Regions from separate parts of the Homo sapiens genome. Here region 2 is linked to region 1. Evidence: fine-mapped expression QTL. A gene starts in region 1. The other region holds a variant in brackets. All regions are shown on one strand. Distances are from middle to middle. Region 1 holds the start of CLIP3 (CAP-Gly domain containing linker protein 3). Region 2 overlaps WDR62 (WD repeat domain 62).

Region 1 (15,344 bases):
CCCAGGGAAACCCACCCCTGAGACCCAGGGCTGGGGGTGTGTCAAGTAATTGAGGGTGGGCCTGGGGGTGTAGGCAGTAGGGATGAGGGCCACACTTCAGTGCTGTAGGTCACGCCCTCAGGGAGGCAATCTCTGGAGACCCCAAGCCTGTAATGAGGACATGTGGGAGATGAACATTGAGAATGGGCTCCTGTGGGCTGGGTGCAGTGGCTTATGCTTATAATCCTAGCAATTTGTGAGGCCGAGGTGGGCAGATCACCTGAGGTCAGGAGCTCGAGACCAGCCTGGCCAACATGGTGAAACTCCATCTCTACTAAAAATACAAAAATTAGCCGGGTGTGGTGGCGCATGCCTATAATTCTACCTACTCGGGAGGCTGAGGCAGGAGAATCGTTTGAACCTGGTAGGCAGAGGTTGCAGTGAGCCGAGATTGCACCACTGCACTCCAGCCTGGATGACAGAGCCAGTCTCTGTCTCAAAAAAAAAAAAAAAAAATTAGAGAGAGTGAGAGTGGGCTCCTGTGGTATAGAGTCAGGAGTCAAACTCTGGGCCAGTGGAAAATGGGGAGAGGCAGGGTCTCAGGGGCACAGGCCATGTTACCCCAACATACATGTGCCTGGACGGCTGCAGGGTAATTAGCATTGTGGATGGAGCCTGGTAATGCATAGGTCAGAGGTCAAAGATCATATTGAGGGCTTAGGAGAGGACCAACCCTCTCATTCACAGAAGGCCTAGCCCAACTTTCCTCATGACCTTGAAATGCTGTTATGCACTGCCATGGGATAGGCTGGATGACCCTGGGCAGATCCCTTAATCTCTGCCTCAGTTTCCCCATTGTAAAACAAGGCTTATAATAGACTTCACCTGACATGTAATGAACACTAGGCATATTTCAGCTGTTATTGCATTTGCTGAATGTACAGACGGCATTTGTAGTATTTGGGGAGTCACGGGAAACGCAGAGACCTGCTGGAGGGAAGTGGGGGAGGAAGGGAGCAGGAGGGTAACGGGTTCTGGGCAAGGGTGGCAGTACCCTCAGCGCAGGGTTGGCGCCGTGCTCCAGCAAACATTTGGCGGCGCCCAGGCACAGGCTGGAAGCAGCGATGTGCAGGGCTGAGCCGTGGTTGAAGTCACTGCACGTGGAGTTCACCACTGGAAGTGGGCAAGAGGAGGGGTTCCGGGTGAGCGCCTGTGGGACCCCAGCCCTCCTCCCACCTCGGGGCTCATCTCTTAACTTGCAGGTCCCAGAGCCTCCGACGCAGAGCCCCGCCCCCACCTCGGAGCCCCCCTCTCCCTTGGCAGCCCCGACCCTCCCTAGAGTGGTAGTCCCTGAGCCCCCTCTCCCACGCCTCCAACCTCCCGCTATCTCCTCAGATCACCGTCCTCCTTCCCCTCGCAGCCTGGCCTCACCTGGGTCTCCGCGTCCCTCACCCAGGTCCTTGCCCCCTCCCAGCCAGGGCTCTCCTCCTCACCTCGCGGCCTCGCACCCTTCAGCAGCACACGCACGAGGTCGGGCACATCAAAATAGGCCGCGTAGTGAAGCGCGTTCATGTTGGTCCAGCGGCTGCGCAGCGTCACATCTGCGCCCAGCGCCAGCAGCTGCTGCGAGAGGCGCACGGCTGCCGCGGGGTCCCCTGCGCGATAGGCCGGGTCAGCTTGGAACCCCCATTCCAGAGCATGGGCCCAGTGCACGGGGAGGACCCTGGGCTTCAGGGACTATACTTTGGGATCCGAAGCTTCGGGTTCCAGATGGGGCCTGAGTTCTGGGTGGTTTTCAGCGTGTTGGGTCTGGGGGCCTAGGCTTTGGGGCTTATGACTTGGGGGTAGGGGGCCCTCACCGACTCCGTGGGCCCCAGCTTTGCACGCATAGTGGAGCAGTGTCATGTCGGTCAGCCCGTCACGATCGTTCACATGGCAGCCTCGGCGCAGAATCTGTGAGTACCAGGGGAGCAGGGAGGGTCACCCACACATGTGGGGAACCGCATCCCCTCTCCCCCTGGTTTCCCCAGTGTTCTCACCTCATTGCCGATGACGTCTATCTTGTGCTGGACTTGGGGCACCCACTGGCGCACAATGGCAAACAGCTCGGGGATGGTGGTCTGAGGGTCAAACAGGATCTCCTGGCACGCCGGGTCATTGGGATCGAAGAAGGTGAAAGCTGGGGTGGCAAGAGGTCCAAGGTCACCCCACGCAACTGACCCCCTCCTTCCAGCCTCAGTAGGGGAGCTGTAGGTCTTTGCCTTTTAGAGCCTCTAATGCAGGGTCTCAAGCTGGTGGCACATGGGCCACAGTCAACCCACAGGCATTTTCTGTGTGGCCAGCATGAGGTTTCAAACTCAGGTGGGTTCACATAAAAATCTCGATGCCCAGTGTGTCTTGAAAAGTTGGAAGATCAGGCAATTCCCATATAGCAGCAAACTCCACCCCCTGAAACAAAAGCCTGACAGAGAGTGCAGTACCTTGGAGTCTGCATGTCCAGGGGGACTGCTACTGACCTCACCCACTGTTGCCCTGTGAGAGTATGAGTGAAGTTTGGCTGAATCTCCAGAGCAAAAATAAATAAAGCCAGAAGTCCTGGTTTTTAATAAAACTCTCTCAATTGTTTCAAATACCATGCAGTCCACATCAAATGTATCCATGACTGGGCACAGTGGTTCACATCTGTAATCCCAATGCGTTGGGAGGCTGAGGCAGGAGGATTGCTTGAGCCCATAAGTTCAAGACCAGCCTGGGCAACATAGCAAGACCCCTGTCTTTACAAAAAGTTTTAAAATTAGCCAGGTGTGGTGGTGCGCATTGGTGCTACTCAAGGAGATTGAGACAGGAGGATTGCTTGAGCCCAGGAGTTCAAGGCTGCAGTGAGCCATGATTGTGCCACTACACGCCAGCCTGGGCAACAGAGCAAGACCCTGACTCTGGAAATATAAAAAATAAAAATAGAGGCTGTGCGCGGTGGCTCACGCCTGTAATCCCAGCACTTTTGGAGGCCGGGGCGGGCGGATCACCTCAGGTCAGGAGTTCGAGACCAGCCTGGTCCAACGTGGTGAAACCCTGACTCTACCAAAAATACAAAAATTAGCCAGGCGTGGTGGTGGGCGCCGGTAATCCCAGCTGCTCGGGAGGCTGAGGCAGGAGAATCACTTGAACTCAGGAGGCAAAGGCTGCAGTGAGCTGAGATGGCGCCGCTGCACTCCAGCCTGGGTGACAGAGAGTGAGACTCCATCTCAAAAAAAGTAAATAAATAAATAAAAATGAAAATAAAATAAAATGTATCCATGAGCAGGAATCAACCTGTGCCCAGCCAGGGTGGTGCCTAGAGGCACTTCTGTCTCTTCCCACTCGACTCTAAGGAGTACTGCTCTCTGTGACGTCAGCACCCAGCACAGGGCCCTGGCACGTGGCAGGAACTCAGTGCGTGGTGAATGAACGACTACATGAATGATCAGATTATACACAGCCCAGGGAAGTGCCACATAGAAGGTGTCTCCAGGAATCAGCCGGCATGCTCCTTTTAGAACTGCAGTCACATCATAGCCCTTCTTGGCTTAGAACCCTCCTCCAGCTCCCAACCCATCCAGAGTACAGACCAAAGTCTTCCCCACGGCCCTCAGGGCTCTGCACATCCAGCCCCTCAGTTCTCAGCCCTCTCCCCTCACTTATTCCCCTTCCCTCATTTCCCACACTGGGCTCCCTCTGTCCCTCCCACGTGCCAAGCAAATTCTTGTCTCAGGGTCTTGGCACTTGCTGTTCTTCTCACTCAGGATAGACTTCCCACACATCTTCACAAAGCTTTATAAATCTTTGCTCAAATGTCATCTCCTCAGAGAGGCCTTCCCAAACCACACTGTCTAAATCGGCACCCGCCCTTCTCCATCTCCTACTCTTTTTTTTTTTTTTTTTTTTTTTTTTTTTAGAGATAGGGTCTTGGCTGGGCATGGTGGCTCACGCCTGGAATCCCAGCACTTTGGGAGGCCAAGGCTGGCAGATCATGAGGTCAGCAGTTCGAGACCAGCCTGACCAACATGGTGAAACTCCATCTCTACTAAAAATACAAAAATTAACTGGGCGTGGTGGTGAGTGCCTGTAATCCCAGCTACTCAGGAGGCTGAGGCAGGAGAATCGCTTGAACTCGGAAGGCAGAGGTTGCAGTGGGCCAAGATTGCACCATTGCACTCCAGCCTGGAGTCCGTCTCAAAAAAAAAAAAAAAAATAGGGTCTGTTGGAATGCAATAGTATGATCATAGCTCACTACAGCCTTGAACTCCTGGGTTCAAGTGATCCTCCTGCTTCAGCCTCCCTGGTAGCTAGGACTACAGTATACATCACCATGCCCAGCAATTTTTTTTTTTTTTGTAGTGACAACGTTTTGCTATGTTGCCCAGGCTGGTCTCGAACTCCTGGGCTCAAGTGATCCTCCCACTTTGGCTTCCCAAAGCACTGAAATTACAGGTGTGAGCCACCATGCCCAGCCCTTTATTTATTTATTTATTTTTATCATAGCTCATATCACTACTTGACATGTTTACTCCTCTTTCTCCCTCCTTCATTTCCTCTCTTCTTCCCTCACTAGGATCTAAATGCTATGATTCTATTCTGCCTCATTCACTCCTTTATCCCCAAGGCCAGGCACAGCACATGGCACACAGTAGGTGCTCAGTCAATCTCTGTTGAATTAATGTACAAATTTAACAGATACATGATTTCCTCTTGGAGTCCACCTTAGCCTTCTCCCTGTCCTCGACCACATTTCCAGATTTCTTCACATTCTGGGACAAAACCTCTCCCGCTCTACAAGCAAGACTGCTTGGAGGGCTCAGCCTATACCCTCCGACCTCCCACTGAGTCAGAGGCCCCAGCCACCTCCAGCTGCATTTCCAAAGGAGATTTTCCAGTTTTCTGAGGTACAGCACCCCCCCGACCTCAGGCCCCAGATAACTTCCTTTTACTTTTTTCTTTTTTTGAGACAGGGTCTCACTGTGTCACCCAAGCTGGAGTGCAGTGGTGCAATCCTAGCTTACTGCAGCATCGAATTCTCAGGCTCAAGTGATCCTCCCACCTCAGCCTCTGGAGTAGCTGGGACTACAGGTACCCACCATGCCTGGCTAATTTCTAAATTTTCTGTACAGATGGGGTCTTGCTCCATTGCCCAGGCTGATCTCGAACTCCTGGCCTCAAGCAATCCTCCCACCTTGGCCTCCTAGAGTGCTAGGATTATAAGCCAGAACCACTGTGCCTAGCCAACTTTCTTATTTTTCTATTAGACTGAAGTCAACTTGTAGTCTCCCTGATCTACCTCTAGTGGGTGACATGTCCATGGATGCCATCTGTCTTGCTCTATCCTGGCAACGCTGACTCTCTGAACCTGGTTTCTGAACCTCACAGCTGCCGGGGATTCCCAGCCTGCATATCTTCCAAATTCCCCTCCTACATCCAACTCTGGCTGCACTCCATCCCCTTCTACCCAGTACCCAGAGGGAGCTTTCAAACTACAAATCAGACCTGCCACTCCTCTGCTCTTAAACACCCTCCCCTTGCCACTCTTCTCCCCTGTCCCACTTAGAATATAACCAAAGTCCTCACTGTAGCCTTGAAGGCCCTTCCAGATCTGGCCTATGCCAACCTCTCACCTCAACCTCGATCATTCCCTGAATGCAGCTCCAGGATCTTTCTGTTCCAAGTTCAATTCTGCCTCAGGGCCTTTGCACTTGCTGCTGTCTGCCTGGAACACTCTTTTTCCAGCTCTCTTATGGCTGATTCCTCCCCATGCTCTGGGTCCCAAACTAAATGTTACCTACTCAGAAAGAGCAGCCCTGACTACCCCTGCAGGTAGCTGCCCCCTAGTCATTATCGTATCTCCACCTTTAATTTCTTTTTCTTTTTTCTTTTTTTCTTTTCTTTTTTTTTTTTTTCTTTTTTTTTTTTTTTTTTGAGACAGTCTTACTCTGTCACTCAGGCTGGAGTGTAGTGGCTCGATCTTGGGCAACCTCTGCCTCCCAGGTTCAAGCGATTCTACTGCCTCAGCCTCCCGAGTGGCTGGGATTACAGACATATGCCACTATACCCAGCCAATTTTTGTATTTTTAGTAGAGATGGGGTTTCACCATGTTGGCCATGGCTGGTCTCAAACTCCTGACCTCAGGTGATCCGCTGGCCTCAGCCTCCCAAAGTGCTGGGATTACAGGCGTGAGACACCATGCCCAGCCCACCTTTTCTTTCTTTCATAGCACTTGCTCCAATCTGAATTTATCTGATTTCTGATTTATTTATCTGTTCACTTGTTTAGTCTCTCCTTCTCTCCTGCAAGGGAGGATCATGCCTGGATCACTTAGGATTAAATCTCCGGCACCCAGCATAAGGCTTGTCACAGAGTAGCAGCACTCGATAAATATCGCTCGGTCAATGATTAGACACTTTCAGTTTCTCCAAGAGGCCGCCCTCTCAGCTCCATACCCTCCTACCTCAGATCCTTTACCCAGCGGTTACCTCTCCTGGGAGCCCTTTCCCCTGACCCTTCTCTTAGTTAACCCCAACTCACCCTCCAGTCTTCTCAACTGTAACCTCCTCAGGGAAACAATGTCTTAAAAAACTCTTGCAGCAGCTTGTTTATGGTAAATACAATTTTCATAATGTCTTGTAATTACATATTTATATTACATTATATTTTTCTTTCTTGCATATAAACCTAAATGTGAAAAATTACATTATGGTTTAATACCTATTTGTGTGGCTGTTACTGAGGCCTGTGAGTTGTCTCAGGGCAAAGACTGGGTCTCTCTTGCCCCCTGCTGTGGCCCCAGCCCCTAGCATAAAGCCAGGTCCACAGCCGCTTTCAAAAAATGATTGTTGAATGACTAAATGATGGAATGATGTGTCATGAGTCAAAGACTAGGAGTATTACAATTCCATTCTCCAATGGGTGAATGAATGAATTAACGAGGGGTGCTCTGCAGCCAAGATTCCTCTGGACCACCTTCAAATTCCCCAGAATTCTCCCACCATCACCACCAGCAGAGCACAGCCCACCCTCCCCGGCCACCCAACGCTCCAGGCCAGATTCCAGGGTGGGGACAGTGGTTACCGTAGTCCTTAGGGAGGGGGGCAGGTGCCGAGGGGTGCACAACAGGCTTCTGCCGGCGCTCCTGGGTGGGGCTGGGGGCCTCGGGGACGGGTTCATCCTCCTCCTCCTCTTCTTCCTCCTCTCCTCGGGGTGGCGGGGCCATCGGGGCAGGATCTGTCTTAGTCATGGTCCTCGGTGGCCCTCGGGGGGCGGGTGCAGAGTTGGGGGCAGCCTTCAGGCAAATCCTGGAGGCAGAGGTCAGCTGGAGAGGGTGCCCGGCAGGCTCCAGGGTCCAAGCCCCTAGGAGCTTCCAGGGCCCCGGGTGGCCTCCGCGCAACTGGATCTTGGGCAACCATAGGGACCCCCGTTACCCATAGAGGGCCCCGGTGTGTGCGCCCAGCGCCTGCCACCTCCCCCAGGCCCAGCCCCCCATTCTTCTCCTCCCGCGTCAGGCCCCTCAGTCGCGGCTGCCCCCTCCCCGGGTTTGTTTATCTCGGGATTCAGGATGCTTCGCCCCTCCCCTTCTCCGCGGGCCGCCCCCTCCCCATCTTACCTCGGGCAGACAGCGCTGGGGACCAAAGTGGAGACTGGGGAGACTGTGGGAGCAATGGGGTGTCGGTGTCAGGGGACGTGATGGGGGAGGCAAGGGAGACAGAGAGAAGGGGACGAGGCCCAGACGCCGACAGGGGGTGGGGGCGGAGAGGGAGGGGCGCGACTGCGCATGCGCCTGCTGCCCCCCTACCGGCGGCGGGGGAGGAGGGACCAGGAGGAGGGACCGGGAGGCGCTCGCATTGATGGAGGGGCCAGAGGCGGCGACTGAAAGGGGAGAGCCTCCGGGCACTGGGAGAGGAAGAGATGGCTACGGAAAGGAGCGAGATGAGCAGATACAACGGCAAAAGAGAGGGCTGAGAGAGCGGACACAGATCTTCTCCATCCCCTTCCCCCACGCCTGCAAACCAGGCCGGTGAGGGCAGTGGTCTTGGGGCGTGGTGACGATGGGGACCCTCTAGGGGACCCTCTCTCTAGGACCCTAGACCGGACCCCTTCTCCAAGCTCACCATTCATAATGGGTGCCTCAGAGGGGTGATTTCCTAGAGACTCCTATCATGATCATCTCATCCTTACCATCATAATGCGAGGCTCACACACTGGGGCCCAGAGGTTAAGCAGCTTGCCCAAAAGTACATGAGTAGGTGATGGAGCGAACATTTGAAACCAGACAGTCTGTAAAGTCTGATTTTTATTTTTATTATTTCCTAGACAGGGTCTCACTCTGTCACCCAGGCTACTGTGCAGTGTTGTGATCTTGGCTCACTGCAGCGTCAAACTTCTGGGCTCAAGCCATCCTCCCACCTCAACCTCCCGAGTAGCCGAGACCACACGTGCATGCCACCATGTCTGGAGAATTTTTTTTGAGACAGGGTTTTGCCATGTTGCCCAGGCTGGTCTTGAACTCCTGACCTCAAGGGATCCTCCTGCCCCTGCCACCCAAAGCGCTGAGATTACAGGCACGAGTCACCATGCCCAGCTTTGATTCTTAATCACCATGCTACATGCCTGTAGCAGTGTCTGGGAAACAGATCTGCCGATTGACCCCTCCAACTCTCTCAGAACCTGTATCTTCCCCACGGAGGCCTCCTGAAGCCAGCCCAGGGTCCTGGCTCCATTGTCATGGCTTGGCTTCCCACCTGGAGCTGTAGCCTGCTCTGCCTCAAATCATCCCAGCCTGGATGGGGCTGGGTGACAGCCTTGAACACCTCATCCTTCTAATGCACAGGTCCAGTAGCTCCATCTCCAAAAGATTTCCAGGATCTCACTCTCCCCACCGCTACCCTGGGCCCTCATCTTGGTCCATCCTTCTTCTTCTGCCACCAGCACTACGGCAGCAGCCTCTTACCTGCTGTCCCCGTCCTCCTCCAACATGCAGCCACAGGGACCCATGAACACCTGTCACTTTGGAGCCCTCTTTCCCTCAGAGGGGTCTGCCTGCTGCACCTCACTCCAGGTAGAAGCCAAGGCTCTCAGCCATGGCCCACAAGGGCCTATGTGAACCTGCCCCATCATCTCTGCACTCACCTCCTCTCACCCTCTTTTGTTCACTCCACCCCAGCCACACTGGCCTCCTTGCTTCTCCCTACCCCAGGACCTTTGCACTGGCTCTTTTTTTTTTTTTTTTTTGAGATGGCAGTCTCACTGTTCCCCAGGCTGGAGTGGAGTGGCATGATCTCTGCTCACTGCAACCTCTGTCTTCCAGGTTCAAGTGATTCTCCTGCCTCAGCCTCCCGAGTAGCTGGGATTACAGGCCTGTGCCACCACACCCAGCTAATTTTTGTATTTTTAGTAGGGACGGGGTTTCGCCATGTTGGCCAGGCTGGTCTCAAACTCCTGACCTTAGGTTATCTGCCTGCCTCAGCTTCCCAAAGTGCTGGGACGACAGGCGTGAGCCACCGTGCCTGGCCTGCAACGGCTCTTTGTGATGCCCGGAATGCTCTTCCTCCAAATCCCTACGTGGCTCCCTCTCTGCCCTGTTTTAGGATCTTACTTGTTGGTGTCTTTTCACCTTCTCTGCTCTAAAACTGCACCCCTTCCTCCCTTCCCTACTATGGTTTTCTCCATAGCAACACCGCCTCCCAGACCTGACACATCCCAGACAGCAGGCCCTCACTGCAGGGGTTGTTCGTCCTCTGGAACCTGAGCCTGTAGCGCTCCAGGCCAGCCCCTTCTGATCACCCAGGTTTCTGCTAAAACATGGCCTTGGAGGGCCCTCCCCCAGGCCCAAACCAAATTTTTGTTGTCTTTATAGCACTCATCGCTCATGTCTGCAGTGTTCTTGTTTATTTGTTTACTAGTTCATCGTCTACTCAAGTAGAATGAGCACCATGAGGGCAGGGATTTTCTCAGCTGTGTCCACCATGGTATCATGAACTCAGTACCAGGCTTGGCAAAAAGCGTGGGACTCCTTAGAACCAGGTATGATTCTCCCAAACAACCCTTGCTCTGCTCTGAGGCTGTCGTACTGATTTGCAAAGATCTGAGCCGGGGGTGGCAGAAGCCTGGTACCCAGGGGATTGGGGGCTGATGAGAGACTTGGGCCCAGGTCACCCCTAAGGTTCAAGAGATCCCTAGGAGTGGGGTGGTAGAACCCAGGCCCTTGAGGGAGGCACTGCTACTACCCAGGCGTGGGCGGTGGGGCTGGGCCAAGCCCACGTATAATGTCTTTCCTCCTCCATCTTCTATCTTTTGTCCCTCGACATTGTCTGTCTTGATCCTTATGCACTGGGGATCCGAGTGTCCAGGAGCTCCGGCTTGGCATCCACTGTGGCAGGTGCAGGGTCCTGGGCAAGGACCATGGCTATGTCAGGCCCTCCACAGATGATGGTGAAGGTTTGGGATTCCTCAGGTCCAAGGGTCTGGGCTGTTGTCTAAGGCAAAGAAGTGGTAGAGATGGGGAACATTACGAAGCAAGTTGCGGGAGAGACAGACAGATAACGGTGAGGAACAGGGAGGCAAAGGTGGCAGGAGGGCGTGTCAGGAAACAGAGAGAGATGTGGGGAGAGATATGAGGAGACAGGAAAGCAGATGTGAGGGCCAGAGAGACATTCATGGGAAAGGAAAGAAGGGTGGGGAAATGGGAAGAGAAGTGCGGGGGCACAGACGCAGACACGTGGGGGAAAGAGATGTGCAGGCAGACAGACGTACAGACAGGGTCAGAGATATGGGGGAGACAGAAAATATGCAGATAAAGAGAGACACAGGGAGGTGGGGAAACAGGTGGCGGACAGAGATGATGGGCAGAAAGACAATGAATGTTGGGGAGGGAGGAGATTGGGAGGTAGGGATAGATGAGTAGGAGACAGAGATTGAATGACAGGAGGGGAGGCAGAGAGAGGCAGTCAGCTCAGGGGATCTGGCAGGCTCCACAAAGAGCCCCAGGCCCGAGTCTGAGCTCTGTCCCTGCCCCACTGTCCCTCTGTGCCCCAGGCCACAGTCTCAAACTTCAAGGCCCCAGAGGCAGCCACACTGTAGCTCCAGCCAACTGCTATCACCTGAGAATCCAAGCCCAGTGCTGCTAGATATGCAGAGCCTTCAGGAAAGACCAGACTTTTTTTTTTTTTTTTTTTTTGAGACAGAGTCTCACAGTGTCACCCAGGCTGGAGTGCAGTAGCACAATCACAGTTCATTAAAGCCTTGACCTTCTGGACTCAAGCAATACTCCCACTTCAGCCTCTCAAATAGCTAGAACTATAGGTGCAACACTTGGCTAATTTTTTGTGTTTCTTGTAGAGACAGGGTTTCACCATGTTGCCCAGTCTGGTCTCAAACTCCTGGGCTCAAGTCATCTACCTGCTTCAGCCTCCCAAAGTGCTGGGATTACAGGTGTGAGCCACTGCACTCGGCCATTATAAATTATTTTAAAGCACTGCGGAGGCCAAACAAATTGTATCTGTGGGTCATGTCCAAACCACTGACTATCAATCTGAGACTCCTGGCTGGGCATGGTGGCTCATACCTGTAATCCCAGCACTATAGGAGGCCGAGGTGGGCTGATTACCTGAGGTCAGGAGCTCAAGACCAGCCTGGCCAACATGGCAAAACCCCGTCTCTACTACAAACACAAAACTTAGCTGGGCATGGTGGCACGTGCCTGTAATCCCAGCTACTTGGGAGGCTGAGACAGGAGAATCGCTTGAACCAGAGAGGCAGAGGTTGCAGTGAGCTGAGATCGCACCACTCCACTCCAGCCTGGGCAACAGAGCAAGACTCCTTCTCAAAAAAAAAAAAAAAAAAAATCGGATACTCCTTAACTCCAGAGGTACTGTGGGGGCTCCTTCCTGAGCCCCTTCAGTGAGTCTAGCATTCAGAGCTCTGTGTGGGCATCTCTCTCATACAAGCAGGGCTCTGAAAGCCATGGGGGCTAAGCTGGGCACCTCAAGCTTGGCCCTAGGGTTTTAAGACAGGAGAAATTTCGCCTTGGTCAAACTGTGATTTTCAGAGACATAACACCATTCCTCATCTTCCTCCCCCGCCACCCCACACACAGAGACATAACACCCTTCCTCAACTTCCTCCCCTACACACACACACACACACACACACACACACACACACCTTCCTCAGCTTCCTCCCCTACACACACACACACACACAAACACCTTCCTCAAATTCCTCCCCTACACACACACACACACACACACACACACACACACACACCCAGCAGTAAAATATAGAGGCAAAAGGGATTCAGATAGGGCCTGGGGGACACTATTACAGAGATTGCAAACTCCAGCTCTATAGGGGCCAGGCAGGAAGCTCTCACAGGCCTCTTCTGCAGCCAGACACCTGGGTTTGAATCCTGGCCCTGAAACATGTTGGCTGCCTGACTGTGGGCACACTACTGGACTGCTCTGTGCCTCCATTTTTTCATCTGGAAGATAGAGACAACAGCAGTATTAAGATTATAATGAGGTTTTTTTTGTTTGTTTTTTGAGATGGAGTGTTGCTCTTGTCGCCTACGCTGGAGTGCAATGGCACAATCTCGGCTCACTGCAACCTCTGCTTCCCAGGTTCAAGCAATTTTCCTCCCTCAGCCTCCCGAGTAGCTGGGATTACAGACGTGTGCCACCACGTCCGGCTACTTTTTGTATGTTTAGTAGAGATGGAGTTTCACCATGTTGGCCAGGCTGGTCTCGAACTCCTGACCTCGTGATCTGCCCACCTCAGCCTCCCAAAGTGCTGAGGTTATAGGCATGAGCCACCACACCCGGCCTTTTTTTGTTTTTGTTTTTGTTTTTGAGATGGCGTCTCGCTCTGTTGCCCAGGCTTGAGTGCAGTGGTGCCATCTCGGCTTACTGCAACCTCCACCTCCAGGGTTCAAGCAATTCTCACACCTTAGCCTCCCAAGTAGCTGGGATTACAGGTGCGCCACCATGCCCAACTAATTTTTGTATTTTTAGTAGAGACAGGGTTTCTCTATGTTACCCAGGCTGGTTTCAAACTCCCGAACTCAAGCAATCTGCCTGCCTTGGTCTCCCAAAGTGCTGGGATTACGGGCATGAGCCACCGCACACAGACCATAGTGAGTTTTTTGTTTGGTTGTGGTTTTTGGTTTTTTTTGAGACCTTGCTTGGTCACCCGGGCTAGAGTGCAGTGGTGCGATCTTGGCTCACTGCAGTCTCTGCTTCCTGGGCTCAAGGGATCTTCCTGCCTCAGGCTCCCAAGTAGCTGGGACCACATGTGCCCACCACAATGCTAATTTTTGTGTTTTAGTGAGACAGTCTTACCATGTTGTCCAGGCTGGTCTTGAACTCCTAGGTTCAAGCGATCTGCCCACCTTGGCCTCCCAAAGTGCTAGGATTACAGATGTGAGCCACTGCATTTTTTAAAAATTAACCTTGTAGCAGTCAGGCATGGTGGCTCACTCCTGTAATACCAGCATTTTGGGACGCCAAGGCAGGTGGATCACGAGGTGAGGAGATCGAGACCATCCTGGCTAACACGGTGAAACCCTGTCTGTACTAAAAATACAAAAAATTAGCTGAGCGTGGTGGCGGGCACCTGTAGTCCCAGCTACTTGGGAGGCTGAGGCAGGACAATCGCTTGAACCTGGGAGGCAGAGGCTGCAGTGAGCCGAGATTGCACTACTGCACTCCAGCCTGGGCAACAGAGCGAGACTCCGTCTCAAAAAAAAAAAAAAAAATTAACCCTGTAGCTCCAGCTCAAAGGGTCATAGTGAGTTTTCAGCTCACTATGTTATAACTCTGTGTCTGGCAGACAATAAGAGCTTCTCAAATATTAAGTATTTAGTATTAGTAAATGGAGCAATCATTACTCAGCTCCAACCAATAGTTGCTTGGCATTGCCAGATTTTGTTTTTCAGGAAAACCTAGAAATTTGTTTTAATTTTCTGTAGAGACAGTGCTTGCTATGTTGCCCAGGCTGGTCTCGAACTCCTGGCCTCCAGCAATCCTCCTGCCTTGGCCTCCCAAAGTGTTGGGATTACAGGCGTGAGCCACTGAGCCCGGGAAAGCCAGAAATTTGGAAACACGGCTGAATGTTCTGATTTTTGAATAGGGGATCCTAGACAAAATGAAAACACACTGCAGGCCAGGCCACCACCCATGGATGGGGCTGCCAGGCTGGGGTGCCACTCACCAGGCGCTGCAGACCCCGGCGTGCCCGTGCCAGCAGGCTCTCCCCGTGTAGCTGCTGTGCCAGCCGTTCCAGGGCCTGCAGCTGCGCCTGGTGCCGCTCCTGGCACCGTTGCAGCCTCCGCACCCGGCGTTGCAGTGCTCCCAGCACTGGGCCCAGCCCGGTCTGGGCCTGTTGGGCAGGGACTTCAGGTTGTGACCGCTCAGGAGTTGGCGCAGGGGCCAGGGGGGTCAGGAGCATGGTGGCCACAGTCTTGGGGCTCCCCGATGTGGGGCCCAGCACCACTAGGCGCACTGGGCCAGAGACTGGGATGGCAGGGCTCTGGGGCAGGGGTGTATTCTTCTGTAGGGGAGGCGGCGGCGAGACTGGCTTCTGGGTGCTTCGGGTCCTCCGCTGACTCTGGAAGACAAGGCATGGGGTGCAGGGGTGCCGTGGTCAGACTTCGACTCAGGAGGAAAGGGATGGAGGGTCTGTTTCCAAGGGGGACTTGCCTAGGTAAGGCCAGACCTCAGGGAGGAAGTGTCGTCAGGAGGGGAGGGCCAAAGTTCAGACTCAAGGAGGGACTTCCCTTAGGCAGGGAGGTCTGGGGGTTGGATTCCAGCAGCAGGACCTCCCAGCGCTCACCTTGGCAGGTGGTCCCCGGGAGAAGATGGAGGGCACTGCATCAGGCCGCAGGTAGCGCACACCCCAGCGCCACTGGAAGCAGGAGGGTGTGAAGTGCTCGCTGCACAAGTGCTGGTGGCAGCTGGGCACCCAGTGCTCACAGCCCATGTGCTGCAGCCAGGCCTGCAGCCGGGGACCATCCTTCAGTGGGAACCTGCATGGGTGGTTGGGGGGCTGGGTCAGTGCTACGAGGTTCAGACTTATCCCTCCCAGAGGATACCCACCCTGGAGGTCTCTGGGCTCCAAGCCTGTGCCTCCCTAGGGCTAGGAAGTAGACCTGTCTTGTGCCCAGGCTTTCTCTATCTCATACACACAACCACAACCCTTTTTTCAGCTTCATCTTTTAGTAGTAGTATTTTGTGAGACGGGGTTTCGCACTTGTCACCCAGGCTGGAGTGCAATGGCGCGATCTTGGCTCACTACAACCTCCGCCTCCTGGGTTCAAACGATTCTTCTGCTTCAGCCTCCTGAGTAG
Region 2 (10,967 bases), 66 kb after region 1:
CTGAGGTCCTGAGGTGGTGTTAGAGATATCTTGCTTTTGAGGCTCCCACTCCACCCCCAAGCTATGAACCAGGGCCCTGGCTTCAGTGCCTGCCTCATGCCAAGGGTGTTTTAGTTTCCCGTACTCGGGAAGAGCCACCATCATTGCTACCACCTACAGGAAGCCCAGCACAGGACTGCAGCCCCGCTGTCTGCTTGGCTTTCTGTCCCATTGCTGTGGCCCTGAGAGTTTGCATTCGTTTGTAGCCTGGCCTTTGTTAATCTCATCTATTGTGGTGATGTGTTTCTAGTGGGGAGACGGCATCAAGTGAGAGACTTGCCAGCACCATCTTGACCAGCAGCCAAGAATATGTTCACATGGAGCTTAGCACAGGGCCCAGCCCTAGGCAAGTCCCCACCACCAGCCCATTTGCCTGTATTCTCTCCTTACCATCCTCATTCCTGGCTTTAGGCAGGATACGTATGTGTCCACACCTAGTGAGATTCACTCCCTGAGCCCTGGAGAGCAAACAGAGGATGATCTGGAGGAAGAGTGTGAGCCAGAAGAGATGCTGAAGACACCATCCAAAGATAGCTTGGATCCAGGTTGGAAAAGGGGCCCTATTTTGAACTATGTCAGTGTAGGGAATCATTGCTGGGTTTTGCCCATGACCTTGTTTACAGGGCCTGGCACATATTAAAACTCAGGAGTCGACAGGGTGCGGTGGCTGATACCTGTAATCCCAGCACTTTGGGAGGCCGAGGTGGGTGGATCACCTGAGGTCAGGAGTTGGAGACCAGCCTGACCAATATGGTGAAACCCCGTCTCAACTAAAAATACAAAAATTAGCCGGGCGTGGTGGCGTGCAACTATAGTCCTAGCTACTAGGGAGGCTGAGACAGGAAAATTGCTTGAACCTGGGAGGCAGAGGTTGCAGTGAGCTGAGATCGCGCCACTGCACTCCAGCCTGGGCAACAGAGCAAGACTCCGTCTCAAAAATAATAATAATAATAATAATATAAATAAAATAAATAAAATTCAGTAATCAGGCTTAGCGTGGTGGCTCACACCTGGAATTTTAGCACTTTGGGAGGCTGAAATGGGAGGGTCACTTGAGGCCAGGAGGTCGAGACCAGCCTGGGCAACATAGCGAGAGCCCATCTATGCAAAAAAAAAATTTTTTAAAGAAATTAGCCAGGCATAGTGGCACACATCTGTAGTCCCAACTACATGGGAGGCTGAGGCAGGAGGATCACTTGAGGCCAGGAGTTTGAGACCAGCCTGGCACGTACCAAGACCCCGTTCCTACAAAAAGAAAAAAATTAGCCAGGCCTGGTGGTGCACACCTATAGTCCCAGCTACCTGAAAGGCTGAGGCAGGAAGATCGCTTGAGCCCAGGAATTCCATGTTATAATGAGCTATGATTGCACCACTGCACTCCAGCCTGAATAATAGAGTGAGATCCTGTCTGTAGAAAAAGAAAGAAACTCAATAATCATATCAGTCAAGACTCTTTCAGTATAAAAGCAACCAGGCTTAAGTCAGGAAGAGGATTTTTTGGTGCCTGAAAATTGGAGAGGATTAGCTTTCAGCATGGCTAGATCCAGATAGACAGATGATGTTAAAAGGAAGATTTTTTTTTGTATCTTTTGGCTCTGCTTTTCTTCATGTTGGCTTTGCTGATGGACAGACTGTCCCTTTACTAGGGGAAAAGATACCCCCAGCAACTACAGGCTTATAAAACTCCATAGAGAATAGAACACCTCTTTCCTATAGTAGCTCAAGCAGAGTCTTAGGGTTGTGTGGCTCATGTTTCTGGTATCTGCTGTACCCACTTCTGAGCCAGTTGTTGTAGCTGTCCACATCTCAGCATGTGATCACTTCTGAGGGCAGAGACTGTAGTCAGCTCCATCCACTCACACCACCTGACCAGGCATCAAAGATGTGTTTGAGGCCGGGTGTGGTAGCTCACGCCTGTAATCCCAGCACTCAGGGAGGCCGAGGCGGGTGGATCACCTGAGGTCAGGAGTTCGAGACCAGCCTGGCCAACATGGTGAAACCCCATGTCTGCTAAAAATACAAAAATTAGCTGGGCGTGATGGCGTGCGCCTGTAATAGCAGCTACTTGGGAAGCTGAGACAGGAGAATTGCTTGAACCTGGGAGACGGAGGTTGCAGTGAGCTGAGACTGCGCCACTGCACTCCAGCCTGGGTGACAAAGCAAGACTCCGTCTCAAAAAATAAATGAACAAGTAAAAATAAATTGAATTATGTTGCGGATATTGTCCGGAATCTTTTTCCTCTGCAAAGTCTCTCATCTACCTGTATGTTGGTGAATACAAAGCAGACGCCTGCGAAATTTTAAGTTATTCCCCTCCAGGTGGCCATTTAGGTTTTTCCTGATTGCACATCACTGTTAATGAGGCTATGGAGTGGAGACCACTCCTAAGCCTCCTCGAAATGTGAGGACTTCTCCAGGAGAGAGTCTGAGGAGTAGCACCACTGGATCCTGGAGTTATTTTATTTTACTTTAAAAAAGTTGTTTTATTATTTTATTTCACTATTTTTGTTGCCCAGGCTGGAGTTCAATAGCACAATCATAGCTCACTGTAGCCTTGACCTCCTGGGCTCAAGCAATTTTCCCTCCTTAGCCTGTGGAGTAGCTGGGACCACAGGCTCAAGCTCCCACACCCAGCTAAATATGTGTGTATCAGGGGATGGTGTGTGTAGAGACAAGGTCTCACTGTGTTGCCCAGGCTGGTCTCAAACCCCTGGCCTGAAGTATCCTCCCACCTCGACCTCTCAAAGTGGTGGGATTACAGGCTTGAGCCAGTATGCCTGGCCTTTATTTTAAAAGAGAACCCCGGCTGGGCGCAGTGGCTCACACCTGTAATCCCAGCACTTTGGGAGGCCGAGGCGAGCGGATCACGAGTTCAGGAGATCGAGACCATCCTGGCTAACATGGTGAAACCCCGTCTCTACTAAAAATACAAAAAAAAAAAATTAGCCGGGCATGGTGGCGGGCACCTGTAGTCCCAGCTACTTGGGAGGCTGAGGCAGGAGAATGGCATGAACCCGGGAGGTGGAGGTTGCAGTGAGCCGAGATCGCGCCACTGCACTCCAGCCTGGGCAACAGAGCGAGACTCCGTCTCAAAAAAAGAAAAAAAAAGAGAACCCCAAGAGTTCTCCAAACCCAGTTACTGCCCCACCCTGCATTGCATTAGGCTCTCCATTGTCCCCACACTTTTCCTGCCATCCTTTGGTAGTATTAAGCTTTTTCACCTCGGTCAGTCTCGTGAGTCAAATATCGCATCCCACGGTTTAAGTTTGCATTTCCCTAACCCCCGGTGCTGTTGAGCCTTCTGACTTCTGGGTTGTGGTGTTGCCTCTTTGGGGACTGCCCGGTTATGTATGTGGCCTGTTTGTTGGGTTGTTTGTCCTCTTTTCATGGATTCTGTGTCTTTCCAGATCCTCGTTGCCTGCTAACCAACGGCAAGCTGCCACTGTGGGCAAAGCGGCTGGTAAGTCTTCAGGGAGAGGGTTGCTCAGGGGCTGGCAGAGGAAACGCCTCCCCAGCTCTGCCTTCTGGAAGCCCTTTTTCCTTTCCATGTCCCTCTTTTCCCTGGAGAAGCCCTGTCATCCTTCCAGGCTCAGTGAGACAGCCCTTTGTTCATGATCAGTGCTCTCTGCCAGGCATTGTTCTGGATGTCAGGGACACAACAGTGAGCAAGGGAAACAAAAGTCTCTCCCTTCACAGGCTCACTTGCCTGTGTGGGCGAGGAACAATATCCCCATTAAATAAGTAAATGACGTAGTAGGTTGGGTGCTGATAAGTGCTGTGGAGGGAAAAGAATCAAGAAGGAAAATACGTCAGCCAGGTGCAGTGATACGTGTCTGTGGTCCCAGCTACTCAGGAGGCTGAAGTGGGAGGATCACTTGAGCCCAGGAGGTTGAGGCTGTAGGGAACTGAGAAGGCACCACTACTACACTCCAGCGTGGGCAACAGAGTGAGATCCTGTCTCAAAAAAGAGAAAAAGAACAGGGGCCCAGCACGGTGGTTCATGCCTGTGATCCCAGCACTTTGGGAGGCCAAGGCAGGTTGATCACTTGAGCCCAGGAGTTCAAGACCAGCCTGAGCAATATAGTGAGACCCCATCTCTACAAAAAATAAAAAAATTAGCCAGGCATGGTGGTGCATACCTGTAGTCCCAGGTACTCAGGAGGCTGAAGTGGGAGGATTGTTTGGGCCAGGGAGGTCGAGGATGCAGGGAGCTGCACTCCACAGCACTCCAGCATGAGCAACAGAGCCAACACTTTGTCTCATAAAAAAAATAAAAATAAAAAAGAAAATAAGGAGTGTTGGGGGGTGTCAGTTTTAAGTAAACAGGAAAGGCCTCATTGGGAAAATGATGTTTGAGCAGAGTTGAAGCAAGTGAGACAGGCAGATACTGGGACGAATGTTCTAGTCATAACAGCCTATACGTGTAAAAGCCACGAGGCCAGGAGCTCGAGACCAGCTTAGGCAACATAATGAGACTCCCATCTCTACAAAAGATTAAAAATAGCCAGGCATGGTGGTGCACACCCATAGTCCCAGCTACTCAGGAGCCTGAGGCAGGAGGATCACTTCAGCCCAGGAGTTGGAGGCTGCAGTGATCGTGCTACTGCACTCCAGCTTGGATGGCAGAACGAGACCTTGTCTCTTAAAAAAAAAAAAAGAAAAAGAGACCGGGTGCGGTGGCTCACGCCTGTAATCCCAGCACTTTGGGAGGCCAAGGCGGGTGTAATCCAAGGTCAAGAGATCAAGATCATCCCGGTCAACATGGTAAAACCCCGTCTCTACTAAAAATACAAAAATTAGCTGGGCATGGTGGTGCATGCCTATAGTCCCAACTACTGGTAAGGCTGAGGCAGGAGAATCACTTGAACCCAGGAGGCAGAGGTTACAGTGAACCGAAATCATGCCACTGCACTCCAGCCTGGCGACAGAGTGAGACTCCCTCTCAAAAAAAAAAAAAAAGAAAGACAATGTGGATTATAAGAGACAGAATAAGAGAGGTGAATGAAGGATGATCCCAAGGTTGGGGCATGAGTAACTGGAAAAAACAACTGAAACAGGGAATCTTTAGGAGGAGCAGGTTTGTGCAGAGGAAATGAGTTGAGTTGTCAGCATGTTAACTTTGAAATACCTACCAGACATCCATACAGAAATGTAGAGCAGTCACATGTGCAATTCTGAAGTTTCAGAGAAAAGTTCATGAATCCCAGCTGGGCATTCCCAGCACTTTGGGAGGCCGAAACAGGATTCCTTGAGCCCAAGGGTTTGAGACCAGCCTGAGCAACATAGTGAGAGTCCACCTCTACCAAAAACCAACAAAATGGGCTGGGCGCAGTGGCTCATGCCTGTAATCCCAGTACTTTGGGAAGCCGAGGCGGGCGGATCACTTGAGGTCAGCAGTTTGAGACCAGCCTGGCCAACATGGCAAAACCCCATCTCTACTAAAAATACAAAAATTAGCCAGGTGTGGTGGTGGGCACCTGTAATCCCAGCTACTCTGGAGGCTGAGACAGGAGAATTGCTTGAAACTGAGAGGTGGAGGTTGCAGTGAGCCAAGGTCACGCCACTGCACTCCAGCCTGGGAGACAGAGCAAGACTTCGTCTCAAAAAAAAAAAAAAAAAAAAAAACAGAGAAAGGTTCACGCTGGAGATATGTACCTGGAAGTTGTTTCTGAATGGTATTGAAAGCCAAGAGTCCAGATGGGCTGTGTGAAATGTCCGTGTCGCTCCCTGCAGTGAGTGAGCACTCAGCCAGTTGCCTGACTGTCCGATATCCTTCAAGCTAGGGGACGATGATGTGGCAGATGGCTTGGCCTTCCACGCCAAGCGCAGCTACCAGCCCCACGGCCGCTGGGCAGAGCGGGCCGGCCAAGAGCCCCTCAAGACCATCCTGGATGCCCAGGACCTGGATTGCTACTTTACCCCCATGAAGCCCGAGAGTCTGGAGAACTCCATTCTGGATTCACTGGAGCCACAGAGCCTGGCCAGCCTGCTGAGTGAGGTACACACTTCCACCGCAGCCTGGCCCATAGCCCCGGCACCGTGACGGCCCCAGGGCCTGGCGCCTTAGGCTGACTCCCACTCCATGGGGGCAGGGAGGATTACATGAGATGGTGAAGGGCAGGAGGGTGAGCCCCAGGTCTGTTGCACAGCAAGACTTCCCAAGGCAGACAGGGAGTCTTTGGAAAGTGGGTCACTTGGGGGTTAAGAGCTTGGATGCTAGAGCAGGCTTGTACCCAAGTGGGGGACATTTGGGTAGATCGAGCCCTGACCCTACCCATTCCTGTTGTGTGACCTGGAGTAAGAGGCTTACCTCTTTGGGCTTCAGTCTTCTAAAAAGTAGTCATAATGGGGTCAGGGGCAGTGGCTAACACCTGTAATCCCAGCATTTGGGGAGGCCAAGGCAGGAGGATTACTTAACGATCACTTGAGGAGTTCAAGGCCAGCCTAGGCAACGTAGCAAGATCCCACCTCTACAAAAATATTTTTTAAATTTTTTTGTTTGTTTTGTTTTTAAATGGTAATAACAATCTCTTCTGCCCCAGAGGGCTTTTACAGGAATCCATGCTTAAGTATAGGGCCTGGGCTCTTAGAGGTGCCCGTGCAACTTTAGCTCTTTCTCTACTATTTTCCAAACAAAATTCATTTTTATCCTATCCTATAATTTGTCATCTTCATTGTGGTATAATATACATCCAGTAACATGCACAGATTTTAGGTATACAGCTTGATGAACTATCTGTGTAATTCACGTGTGTCCACTACCCTGGGCAAAATCTGGAGTGTTTTCTACCTCATAGAAACCCCCTTCTGCCCTTCCCAGTCAGGTCCCCGCACCAGGATAACCAGTGTTCTGACCTCTCACCAAGGACTGGGTTTCCTATTCTTGAACTTGAT[A/G]TAAATAGACACGTAGAGGGTTGGGCCTCCTATTTTTGGTGCCACACCTCTTCCTCATCTGTAAAGGGACTGATAATGCAGGGGCAGACCAGGACAAGCTGGTTGCGAGTGGAGGGCATGGCACAGGCCCTGGTTCACAGCCTCCAGCAGTGGGGCTGCTGGCATGGTTCCTGGCGCACTGTTGGTGGCCCCAGCCATGCCTGCCTCAGAATGGCTGTGCTGTCTTCCCCATAGTCAGAGAGTCCCCAGGAAGCTGGCCGCGGGCACCCCTCCTTCCTGCCCCAGCAGAAGGAATCATCTGAGGCCAGTGAGCTCATCCTCTACTCTCTGGAGGCAGAAGTGACAGTCACAGGGACAGACAGGTGGGTGTCCTTTCCACCAAGGGAGCCTTAGTTGGAGGAACCCCCAGCTGATAGCTGCATCCTGGAAGAAGTGCTCTCTGCCTTCCCAGTGGGCTTGTGGGAGTGGGGACAGTTGAGGCCTGGATGGGGCAGGAGCCCAGCCTTAGTTCCCTGGTTCCAGGTGGGGTACAGGAGGGCCTGACCTGGGGGAAGGAGGGGGCATTTGGAGGAGGCGGGGAGGCTGTCGCAGTGCTCCTGCAGGAGCAGCGGGTACAGGTGCCTAGGGGCTCCGGGTGGGGCTAGCTGTTGAGTCTCCAGCTGAAGTCCTTGTTCCCTCTCTGCCCCCACTGGCACTGCAGCCAGTATTGCAGGAAGGAGGTGGAGGCCGGGCCTGGAGACCAGCAGGGCGACTCCTACCTCAGGGTGTCCTCCGACAGCCCAAAGGACCAGAGCCCGCCTGAGGGTGAGTGCAGGGCAGGCAGGGACCCTGTGACAGTCTGTGCGTTCAGCCAAGCCCCTTTCTGGGCACCGATGGTGACTTTGACCCAGTACTGAAGCTCAGAGTCTGTCGAGGAAGACACATGTGGTCCCTGCTGCTGCCTGAGGATTCTGGGCCCAGCTGCCTACAGCTGAGAGCCCAGCTCTGCCACCTCCTTGATGTGGAACTTCCCTTATTCATAAAATGGGGGGCAGCTGCTCTTACCATCCCTCCTCCAGATGGGGAAACTGAGCCCAGGGAAGGGTAGCCCTGGCCCTGGCTCACCAGAATGGTCAGGCTGTGGGCTCCTGACCCCGACTCTGTCCTTCAGACTCGGGGGAGTCAGAGGCCGACCTGGAGTGCAGCTTCGCAGCCATCCACTCCCCAGCTCCGCCTCCTGACCCTGCCCCTCGGTTTGCCACGTCGCTGCCCCATTTCCCAGGTAAGCAGGGGCCAGACACGCAGGGGACTCGCTGCTCGGGCCTGGCTTAGGGCCAGTCACAATGTCTAAGCACAGGCCCTGCACTTGGAGCCCACTGAGCCTGGAAGACGGGGATCCCTGCTTCTCAGCCTGCGGGCAACAGGGCAGGGATGGGTGGGGCCCGCTTTCTCCATTTCAGGTGGCGTCTGCTGTGACTCATGGTGTTGGCTCCTCTTGTCCCTCCCCTCCTTCCCTGTCAGGATGCGCAGGTCCCACAGAAGATGAGCTGTCCCTGCCCGAGGGACCCAGCGTCCCCAGCAGCTCCCTACCCCAGACTCCGGAGCAGGAGAAGTTCCTCCGCCACCACTTTGAGACACTGACTGAGTCCCCCTGCAGAGGTAGGGCCCTGCCTCACCCACACCTGCCGAGGCCGTCTGTGCAGCCTGGGCACAGCATTGGCGTCCCTGGAGTTGGCTCCCCAGCAGGGCCAGGAGGGTGAGTGGAGAGCAACTGCTTCGTTTTTTTTGAGACGGAGTCTCGCTCTGTTGCCAGGCTGGAGTGCGGTGGCCCAATCTTGGCTCACTGCAACCTCCGACTCCCTGGTTCAAGCAATTCTCCTGCCTCAGCCTCCTGAGTAGCTGGGATTATAGGCATCCACAACCACGCCCTGCTAATTTTTTGTATTTTTAGTAGAGATGAGGTTTCACCATGTTGGCCAGACTGGTCTCAAACTCCTGCCTCAGATGATCTGCCCGCCTTGGCCTCCCAAAGTGCTGGGATTACAGGCGTGAGCCACCGTGCCCGGCCCACTGCTTCACTCTTGACCTGAGCCTCACGATGCCTCCTCACCCACTGCCCCTGCTCGTACCCTGTGTCTGTACATAAGGGTTTCTGGGGAGTGCCCCGCTGGGCTGTGGGCTGGCCTAGGGCCAGGGCTGCTCGGCGGGAAGGGTTATGAGGGTCCCCTCGGGATCTTCCCCTAGAGCTCTTCCCCGCAGCTCTGGGAGACGTGGAGGCCTCTGAAGCTGAAGACCACTTCTTCAACCCACGCCTGAGTATCTCCACGCAGTTCCTCTCAAGCCTCCAGAAGGCATCCAGGTAGAAGCTGGCCAAGCACTGCCCACCCTCTGGCTCCTCAACAGTGCCCCAGGGCAGGCTGAATGAGAATCATCCCCCCTGCTCTCCTCCCCACAGGTTCACCCATACCTTCCCTCCCCGGGCAACCCAGTGCCTTGTGAAGTCTCCAGAGGTCAAGCTCATGGACCGAGGCGGAAGCCAGCCCAGAGCAGGTACTGGCTACGCCTCCCCAGACAGGACCCACGTGAGTATTGGGCCCACCTCCGTCAGGGCACGGGGCTGGGAACCCTGAGGCCTTGTCCTCACCTCAGAGCTGTGCCTGCAGGTCCTCGCTGCAGGGAAGGCTGAAGAGACCCTGGAGGCCTGGCGCCCACCACGTGAGTGCCCCAGTCCCAGACGGACAGTCCTGGGTTTCTCGGCGAGTGGCCGGATGTCCAGCCTAGCTGTGGGGCGTGGGGGCCCTAGCCATCAGTTCTGTGTGGTGGAGTCAGTGCCATCTGCTTCCGTTACAGCTCCCTGCCTTACGAGCCTGGCGTCCTGTGTCCCTGCTTCCTCCGTGCTGCCCACAGACAGGAATCTCCCAACGCCCACATCTGCACCCACCCCAGGCCTGGCTCAGGGTGTCCATGCCCCCTCCACCTGTTCCTACATGGAGGCCACTGCCAGCTCCCGTGCCAGGATATCACGCAGCATCTCCCTCGGTGACAGTGAGGGCCCTATCGTGGCCACACTGGCCCAGCCCCTCCGTAGGCCATCGTCCGTTGGGGAGCTGGCCTCCTTGGGCCAGGAGCTTCAGGCCATCACCACCGCGACAACACCCAGTTTGGACAGTGAGGGCCAAGAGCCTGCCCTGCGTTCCTGGGGCAACCACGAGGCCCGGGCCAACCTGAGACTGACCCTGTCAAGTGCCTGTGATGGGCTCCTGCAGCCCCCCGTGGATACCCAGCCTGGCGTCACCGTCCCTGCAGTGAGCTTCCCAGCCCCTAGCCCTGTGGAAGAGAGCGCCCTGAGGCTCCACGGCTCTGCCTTTCGCCCAAGTCTCCCAGCTCCTGAGTCCCCTGGCCTTCCTGCCCACCCCAGTAACCCCCAGCTTCCAGAGGCCCGGCCTGGCATCCCTGGCGGCACTGCCTCCCTCCTGGAGCCCACCTCCGGTGAGTACAGCCCTGGAGCAAGGACTGTCCCCTAAGCTCATCCTGTGTGCTAGTTGGCTCAGCTCCAAAGATGGATACTTGACCTGGCCACAGGGACTGTGCCATTCATTCATTCGTGCATTAACTTAAATATTTAATGAGCATTACATGTTGGGCTTTGTGCTAAACCCTGGGACATGGGACATGGTGGTAAACAACACAGAGAACTGACAGCTTCAATGGGGACAATGCCCAGACTAAACCTTTAAGGAACCCGTCATATGTATCACGAAGTGACACATGCTTAGGAGGGACAGAGGAGGGCGAGGGAGTGCAGGGTGGGGACAGGGGTTGGGATTACAAACCAGAAGATAAGAAGAGGCTTCAGGGAGGAGGCTGCATTGGAGCAGAGACCTGTAGGAGTGAAGGGGAGGGAGCCTTGGGGACCCAGAGAAGTGTTCCAGACAGAAGTACAGCATGGAGTCCACCCAGTCGCTCTGGCCGCTCACACCAATGGAATGCAGCTCATCTTGCTCATTCCCTTCTCTCTACCCCAGGTGCACTTGGTCTGTTACAGGGCAGCCCTG

The links. PIP is the estimated chance that this variant, and not a neighbour inherited with it, causes the effect.
Region 2: its variant is fine-mapped to the expression of CLIP3 in whole blood (INTERVAL, PIP above 0.99).

What each region holds. Positions count from the first base shown.
Region 1 is chr19:36,025,114-36,040,457 of GRCh38, forward strand. It overlaps CLIP3 (CAP-Gly domain containing linker protein 3), which reads right to left and starts at 7,760. Exons shown (of 14, transcript NM_015526.3): 1 at 7,611-7,760; 2 at 7,079-7,302; 3 at 2,019-2,158; 4 at 1,839-1,932; 5 at 1,473-1,634; 6 at 1,034-1,152. The coding sequence starts at 7,244. THAP8 (THAP domain containing 8) reads right to left here. Exons shown (of 4, transcript NM_152658.3): 2 at 14,831-15,023; 3 at 14,210-14,605; 4 at 9,871-10,479. The coding sequence ends at 10,327. All of the region lies in intron 3 of LOC101927572 (a long non-coding RNA gene), which reads left to right. RefSeq lists a silencer at 10,486-10,659.
Region 2 is chr19:36,093,581-36,104,547 of GRCh38, forward strand. It overlaps WDR62 (WD repeat domain 62), which reads left to right. Exons shown (of 32, transcript NM_001083961.2): 20 at 451-584; 21 at 3,447-3,499; 22 at 5,819-6,037; 23 at 7,168-7,295; 24 at 7,634-7,737; 25 at 8,084-8,194; 26 at 8,434-8,571; 27 at 9,157-9,271; 28 at 9,368-9,494; 29 at 9,576-9,627; 30 at 9,763-10,401; 31 at 10,938-10,967. Among named protein-coding and RNA genes, the nearest start is that of OVOL3, 12 kb to the right of the region's middle. RefSeq lists an enhancer at 7,027-7,528. The variant A/G (reference allele first, on the strand shown) is at 6,934.